Homo sapiens: one gene and its partner. The main gene of each other region encodes a partner of the protein of the gene in region 2 in a complex. Each region holds a gene or a part of one and is shown on either strand. Other genes may lie near its edges. A codon is read from its position in the direction of its gene.

Evidence for each region. Proteins that work in one complex are often made in the same cells at the same time.
Region 1: the proteins of ACAP2 (region 2) and RAB35 are in contact, whole or in part, in a crystal structure (PDB 6IF3), measured with the Homo sapiens proteins. Residues at the interface, in NP_036419.3 of Homo sapiens: Val715, Ala718, Asn719, Ala720, Asp721, Val723, Thr724, Arg727, Leu728, Arg730, Met731, Glu734, Met735, Ser738, Glu748, Thr749, Gln751, Arg755, Asp756, Gln759, Met760; in NP_006852.1 of Homo sapiens: Arg3, Asp4, Tyr5, Leu8, Ile41, Gly42, Val43, Asp44, Phe45, Ile47, Lys58, Gln60, Trp62, Phe70, Arg71, Thr72, Ile73, Thr76, Arg79 (codon at 697).

Annotation. Positions count from the first base shown.
Region 1 is NC_000012.12:120,096,098-120,099,843, reverse strand, and holds part of RAB35 (ras-related protein Rab-35), read left to right. Parts: intron 1-689; coding exon 690-814; intron 815-908; coding exon 909-1,033; intron 1,034-2,470; coding exon 2,471-2,599; 3' UTR 2,600-3,746. UniProt on the Homo sapiens protein: The small GTPases Rab are key regulators of intracellular membrane trafficking, from the formation of transport vesicles to their fusion with membranes.
Region 2 is NC_000003.12:195,289,337-195,293,082, forward strand, and holds part of ACAP2 (arf-GAP with coiled-coil, ANK repeat and PH domain-containing protein 2), read right to left. Parts: intron 3,117-3,746; coding exon 2,929-3,116; intron 2,480-2,928; coding exon 2,370-2,479; intron 1-2,369. UniProt on the Homo sapiens protein: GTPase-activating protein (GAP) for ADP ribosylation factor 6 (ARF6). Doesn't show GAP activity for RAB35.

The DNA of each region.
Region 1 (3,746 bases), on a different chromosome or scaffold from region 2:
ATGAATGGGGACATGGGGTCTGGAGAGGAGAGTTGGGCCTCCCCTTCCTTCTGGCCTTCCTGGCTGGCCCTGGGCTCTGCATGTTTGGGGTGATGGCTTTGCTGGGCGCCCTCTCCCCAGCCATCCCTGGATGCTTGTGTGGCTTCCATGCTTTTCCTGCCACCTGCACAGATGAGCCAAGAGTAGCAGGAAGGGAGGTGCCTACCTGCCCCAGGGGAGGGGCACAGACTTTGCCAGGGCGTCATGATGGTGTGGCTTCTTGGAAAGGTTCTCTAAAACAGGTTTGAGGAGCAAATATTTTTTTGAATGTTCAAAGACAGTGATAACATGATGTCAAATACAAAAACTGCCTGATTTCCCAAAATAAAGCAAGAACTTCAAAGATGTTTCAAGCCTGCAGCAGACTCTGAACAGCAGGAGGTGACTCCTCAGACCTGCTCTGCTGCCCAGGGGCTGGCCCTCCCGCCCTGTTGGTGCCCCGGGCGGGCAGGGGGAGTCAGTGCTGCCGCAGTAGCCTCTCCTGCTGGCCTGTTGTGGCTCGGGGGCATCTGCCGAGGCTGAGTGAGAGCCCAGGCTCCAGGGCCACCCTCACCTTTTCCGGGTCAGTGTCCTGACGTGGGCAGGTGGGTCCCGGCAAGGGGGTGACTCCTGTCGGGGTTGACATGCTGCCGCACACTCTGGCCCTGCAGGTATTATCGGGGGACCCACGGGGTCATTGTGGTTTACGACGTCACCAGTGCCGAGTCCTTTGTCAACGTCAAGCGGTGGCTTCACGAAATCAACCAGAACTGTGATGATGTGTGCCGAATATTAGGTGAGGCTGCACTCAGGGCCGGGTCGGGGTTGGGTGGGAGAGAGGCAGCCGGCTGCGCCCCTCAGGGCTGCGCTGACTCTGCCTTCGTTTGAAGTGGGTAATAAGAATGACGACCCTGAGCGGAAGGTGGTGGAGACGGAAGATGCCTACAAATTCGCCGGGCAGATGGGCATCCAGTTGTTCGAGACCAGCGCCAAGGAGAATGTCAACGTGGAAGAGGTGAGGCCCTGGGCCACTGTGGCTCTGCCACACACCCGTGGCCGCCTTCTCCATGCTGCTGGCCTGCTTGAGGCATCTAAATGACCAACAGAAAATGTCATAGTAACTGCCATTTATTGAGTGCCTACTATGTGCCAGGCCCTTTAACGATCTTAGTTCATAGTTCAACAGTCCTCTGAGGTAGGTACAATTATACCCACATTTCAAATAGGGAAACTGAGGCTCCAAGTGTTGAAGTAACTCAAGGACCACCACCTGGCTAGTAAGAGACTGAGTAAACCTCTGTCCCACACCAAAGCCAAGCACAGTTTCCACTCCAGTCCTCTGCCTCATTGGCCGCCTTGTGCTGTGTGGAGCCCAGAGGCCTGTGGAAGTCGAGGATCCCACTGCTTCAGGGCACAGGGGCCACACAGCAGCGGGCACAGGCTCCTTTGTAAGTCAGGCTGGTGTCCTGATGCTGGCCCATCCACCTGGGCCTGTGGGCAAGGCTGGTATGACCTTGGGCGGTGACTTCACCTCTCTGGGCCCCACATGCCATGAAGTGGCGTGGAGCAGGCAGACCCCGGGTCACCTATGTCCGTGAACAGCAGGGGCACTTTCATCTGTCATGTCATAAGATTCCAGCTGGGCCGGGCGCGCCGGCTCACGCCTGTAATCTCAGTGCTTTGGGAGGCCGAGGCGGGCGGATCACGAGGTCAGGAGATCGAGACCATCCTGGCTAACATGGTGGAACCCTGTCTCTACTAAAAATACAAAAAAATTAGCCGGGCGTGGTGGTGGGCGCCTGTAGTCCCAGCTACTCGGGAGGCTGAGGCAGGAGAATGGTGTGAACCAGGGAGGCAGAGTTTGCAGTGAGCTGAGATCACGCCACTGCACTCCAGCCTGGGCGACAGAGCGAGACTCCATCTCACAAAAAAAAAAAAAAAAAAAAGATTCCAGCTGAAGGAAAGGGGTTGGTCTCTCTAAAAGAAGGACTGGAAAACCCCTGTGAGATTGACTTCCCCAAGTCCACACAGCTCATGGGCCTCTGATGGTGTTCCTTTTTTCAGACTTATTTATTTGTTGAGTCAGGGTCTAACTCTGTCATCCAGGCTGGAGTGCAGTGGTGTGTTCACAGCCCACTGTAGTCTCGATCTCCTGGGCTCAAGTAATCCTCCCACCTTAGCTTCTCAAGTAGCTGGGACTACAGGTGTGCACCACCACTCCCGGCTAATTTTTGTGTTTTTTGTAGAGGTGGGGTTTTAGCAATGTTGTTCCTTTTTGACCTTTAAATAAAATAATTCACCACCTCCTTCTAGAATAGGCTTTGAAGACATACATACCAAAAATGCACAGGTAGAAAGAGCTGGGCCCCGGAAGGCGGGGAGGCAGCCGTGCAGGCCAGCAGGGGCCTCCTGGCCAGGTCTGAGGCGGGCCCTTCCTCTTTCCTCTCCACAGATGTTCAACTGCATCACGGAGCTGGTCCTCCGAGCAAAGAAAGACAACCTGGCAAAACAGCAGCAGCAACAACAGAACGATGTGGTGAAGCTCACGAAGAACAGTAAACGAAAGAAACGCTGCTGCTAATGGCACCCAGTCCACTGCAGAGACTGCACTGCGGTCCCTCCCCCAGCCCGAGGCCCACGGAGGTTCCTCGGGGGACAGTCTCAGTTTCGTGCCGTTATTTAAAGAATTCTCTCCATGTTTTTGTATCGGGAGGTGCCATCGGCACTTCCTCCCCCGCCCTCCTCGAGTGCCAAGAAGGTGTTGGACCAGCCCGCCCTTCCCTACTGGTGCCCCCTCCTCCCCGGCCAAGGCGCCTGGACCTGGCGAGGACGCTGCCCGCCGAGCGGACTGATTCGCAGAGTCTGTACATAGTGTATATTGCTCTACCCGGCCGCACACCACGTCCTGCTCTGGCTTTTGCCTTCTTGATGCCAGCCTGCTGCAACAGACCCTCCCCGCGCCCCTCCCCAGCCCATCTTACTGCAAGCAGCGTCCTGAGGAGACAGCGGCACGTTCTAGCTGCGTCTGCGGCCAGCCCGTGCCAGTGGAGTGGGCTCCGCGTTGCTCATTCTCTCCGACAGGTTGTCAGCCTCTGTCCCCGCTGCACAGGGTCTTGCCCCTTCTCCGGGGCCTGTGCCAGCTCCCTTCCCTCCCCGTTGTCCTGTCCCCACAGCCATTCTGGGAGCTGGGGAACCTGGTCTCAAGGCAGGCCCTGCAGTTCCACAGAGGTGGCAGGTCTTGCCCTTTGGCCAACAGATTTCTTGTCCTGCCTTCTAGATGCCTCTGAGCTCCAAACCCAGGGCAGCCATGGCTTCTCATTTACACCAACAGGTTTCAGTTCCAACAGAAAGGTCGGGGTAGGTTCGTGCAGAGATGGGGCTGGCAGGGGGGCTATGGGAGGATTATTTTAACAGATCAAGAAAATGAAGCCAAATCAAGTGAATTAAATTCCTCACAATTATTTTCTTTCCCTGAGGTTTGATTGGCACAGCAGCAAAAGTTGAGGCCACCCCACTTGTGTCCACTGTTTTTAGAAAAAAATGAATGGCTTCCTGCCATTGTGGGGCTGGACTCTTGGGCTTTCTTGGTGGGAGCGGAGAAGGGGCCTCCCACCCTTGTCCGAGTTGCCTCCCACTGGAGGTCAGGAGTCTACACTGCAGCCTCGGGCACTGTGGGGAGTGCATGCCTGGGGCCTCTGGGTGGGGACCATGGACAGGCCCTGGTCACT
Region 2 (3,746 bases):
TTCTTGATTCATTCTACAAATATTAACTGAACACTAACTCTACTAACAAAAACTTACCAAGATCAACATTTCACAAGTCTCAAGGTATTTTTGCATACATTATCTTATTTAATCTGGTGCTATATAGATAGCATGGTGGATATATAAGTTGTGGTCCCTACCCTCAAAGAATATCATAAAAAGGCCAGACGTGGTGGCTCACGCCTGTAATCCCAGCACTTTGGGAGGCCAAGGTGTGCGGATCACAAAGTCAGGAGATCGAGACCATCCTGGCTAACAAGGTGAAACCCCGTCTCTACTAAAATTAAAAAAAAAAAAACATAGCCGGGTGTGGTGGCGGACGCCTGTAGTCCCAGCTACACAGGAGGCTGAGGCAGGAGAATGGCGTGAACCCGGGAGGCGGAGCTTGCAGTGAGCCGAGATCACACCACTGCACTCCAGCCTGGGCGAGAGCAAGACTCCGTCTCAAAAAAAAAAAAAAAAAGAATATCATAAAAACATGTGCACAGGTATCTATAAACCTAAATGAAAAAAAGATCACTCAAGGTCATTATTTGAAAATGAAGAAAGCCAAGGCAATGTAAACTTCATAATAATAATACAACAGCAAAGAATGGGAAGTAATCTGCTTGCTGTACTTGCAAATATTCATTACTTGAATAAACTGAAAAAGAAATCTAAAATATGAAAGAATAACTAAATGGAGTCTATGAAATAAAATGGAAAGAATTTTGATAGTTTAAGAAGAAAATAATGGCTGGGCAAGGTAAGCACCTGTAATCTCAGCTACTCAGAAGGCAGAGGTAGGGGGAATCACTTGAGGTCAGAAGTTCAAGACCAGCCTGAGCAACATAGCAAAATGTCTCTAAAAAAAATTTAAAAATTAGCCGGGAGTGGCAGGGCATGCCTGTAGTCCCAGCCACTTGGGAAGCTGAGGCATGAAGATCCTGAGCCCCAGAATTCAAGGCTGTAGTGAGCTATGAATGTGCCTATGAACAGTCACCACACTCCAACGTGAGCAACATAGTGAGACTCCCATCTCTTAAAAAAAAAGAAGAAAATACAAAGGATGAGTTAAGTACTACCTTAAATACTACCTTTTTTAAGTGTAGAAAGTTTAAACGATGAAGTTATCTGACTGAATCTCTTTGCTGATAGAAGAAAACAAGCCATGATAAAAATAGCCAGACATGGCCGTGCGCAGTGGCTCATACCTGTAATCCCAGCATTTTGGGAGGCTGAGGCAGGTGGATCACCTGAGGTCAGGAGTTCAAGACCAGCCTGGCCAACATGATGAAACCTCGTCTCTACTAAAAATACAAAAAAATTAGCCAGGCATGGTGGTGCACACCTACAATCCCAGCTACTCAGGGGGCTAAGGCAGGAGAATCGCTTGAACCCAGGAGGCGGAGGTTGCAGTGAGCTGAGATCGTGCTACTGCACTCCAGCCTGGGTGACAGAGCAAGACTTTATCTCAAAATAAATAAATAAATAAATAAATAAATAAATAAATAATAAATAAATAAATAAATAAATAAAAATAGCCAGACACAGTGGCTCACACCTATAACCCAAGCTACTAGGGGAGGATCGCTTGAGCCTAGGAGTTCAAGGCTGTAGTGAGCTATGATTGCACCAGTGCACTCCTGCCTAGGCAACAGGGCGAGACCCTGTCTCTAAATAAATGAAGATGCTATTTTAAAAATATTTCAAAATAAGAGCTTCTTGCTTATCCACCACATAATAATCGGATACCCTGAGATATCTTATTAAGAAACAAGCGTTTAAGACACAAATTTTTCACATAAAGCCAGCATTTTCTTTCATGTATACTTCCTAATAATAGAAAGTCCATTTTCAAGGCTTTATTGTTCTGTGAATCTTACTATCGCTCCAGAAGACACAATGTCAACAACCCAAAGTAAGAATTTAGTTTAGAATTTGACTTTAGCTACCCTGTGGAAAAAACTAAAAATTACAAAGTCATCAAATTATCTTTAAATAGGTTATGTGTGTGCATGCTATGGAAATAATGTATATGTACATACATACATAAACACAAACACAGGCTTAAGTTGTCTGACAAAATCACAATTTTAATAACAGAGAAAGTTAAGTACTAAAACTGATCTATTTAATGACAAGTTAAGGTCAAAGTAAGCCTTGAAATTTTTGTATCTGAAAACCAATAGTAGCTTTTTCTGAAAGAGATTTTTTTTAACTTTCAAATTCCATCGTGACAAAATAAGTCATGGAACACATCTCTTTACAAACACTACCTGAAAACTTTAACCTAAGAAAAACTAAAACATTAATTCAAAATAATTTTTCAAATAAAGTCTCCTTAAATATGAAAGCACTGCAGTTACCCTGTGTGCCCTAAGACGGTGGCATGGTGCAATGGTCCCCGCCCTTGGACATCTCTTTGGTTGACATTAGCACCATTCTGTAGGAGGAACTCACACGTCACCAAAGAGCCCTTAAAGGAAAAAAGAGGATAACTATAGACAAAAGCAAATAACAAGAAACAACAATACATTTCTTTTTAAAAACAATTGGTTTTCGTTACTCAAATAGCATTTCCATTTCCTTCTCTCCAAAACAAAAAATATCCCTCAGCCAAGGCAGAGAAATTATAAATTATATTATTTTCTTCCCAAGAACTAATTCTAATAGAGATTCATTTGCAGTTTGTGAACTAGCAAAACACATTATATACTTTCATTATCGGAATTCTCTTCCACTGCAAAAAAACTTGAAACAACCGAAGTGGTGCTCAGAAACCACTACTATTAATAGCACAGAGGTTCCTTCTATTTTCTAACCCATCTCTTGAAGCAAAGACAATACTAAAGCCAGTTCAGAACATATTATGATTTTTTTTAAATATTTGATTGCTACTGAAAATGTCATTGTATAAACGCATACCCCTAATACAGCCTGAATAAGTGGTGTCGCTTTGTTTTCCTCTGAATTGGCCCAGTTCACGTCTGCACCATGAGCCAAAGCCTCAGCCATTTTAGGAAGGTTTTTTTCATATGACGCCCTATAAAGCTGAAGTCCTGGATTAAGATGTTTCGAGTCAAGAAACATAGAAGAATCTTGCCTTTCTCCTTCTGAAAAGCAAACACATACACATCAATAAAAATGAGCTCTTGGCAGAAAAAGAAAAAATTATTTAATAGGTAGAGTTTCAGTTTTGCAAGATAAAAAGAGTTCTGTGGATGAATGGCAGTAAAGATAGCACACTAATGGGAATATACTTAATGCCACTAAACTGTACACTTAAAAATGGTTAAGATGGGCCAGGCACGGTGGCTCACGCCTGCAATCCCAGCACTTTGGGAGGCCGAGGGGGGTGGATCACTTGAGGTCAGGAGTTTGAAACTAGCCTGGCCAACATGGTGAAACCTCGTCTTTACTAAAAATACAAAAATTAACCAGGCATGGTAGCGGGCACCTGTAATCCCATCTACCTGGGAGACTGAGGGACGAGAATCACTTGAACCCGGGAGGCAGAGGTTGCAGTGAGCTGAGATTGCACCACTGCACTCCAGCCTGAGCAATAGAGCGAGACTCAGTCTCAAAAAAAAAAAAAAAAAAAAAGTTAAGATGATAAATTTTATGTGCATTTTATTGCAATTTTTAAAAAATAAAGCTATGACATAAGAAACCATTAATCTATCATAATGAGCTTATGGGAGATTTTCACATAGCTATTCCCCAACATTCAACCTTCTTCTTCT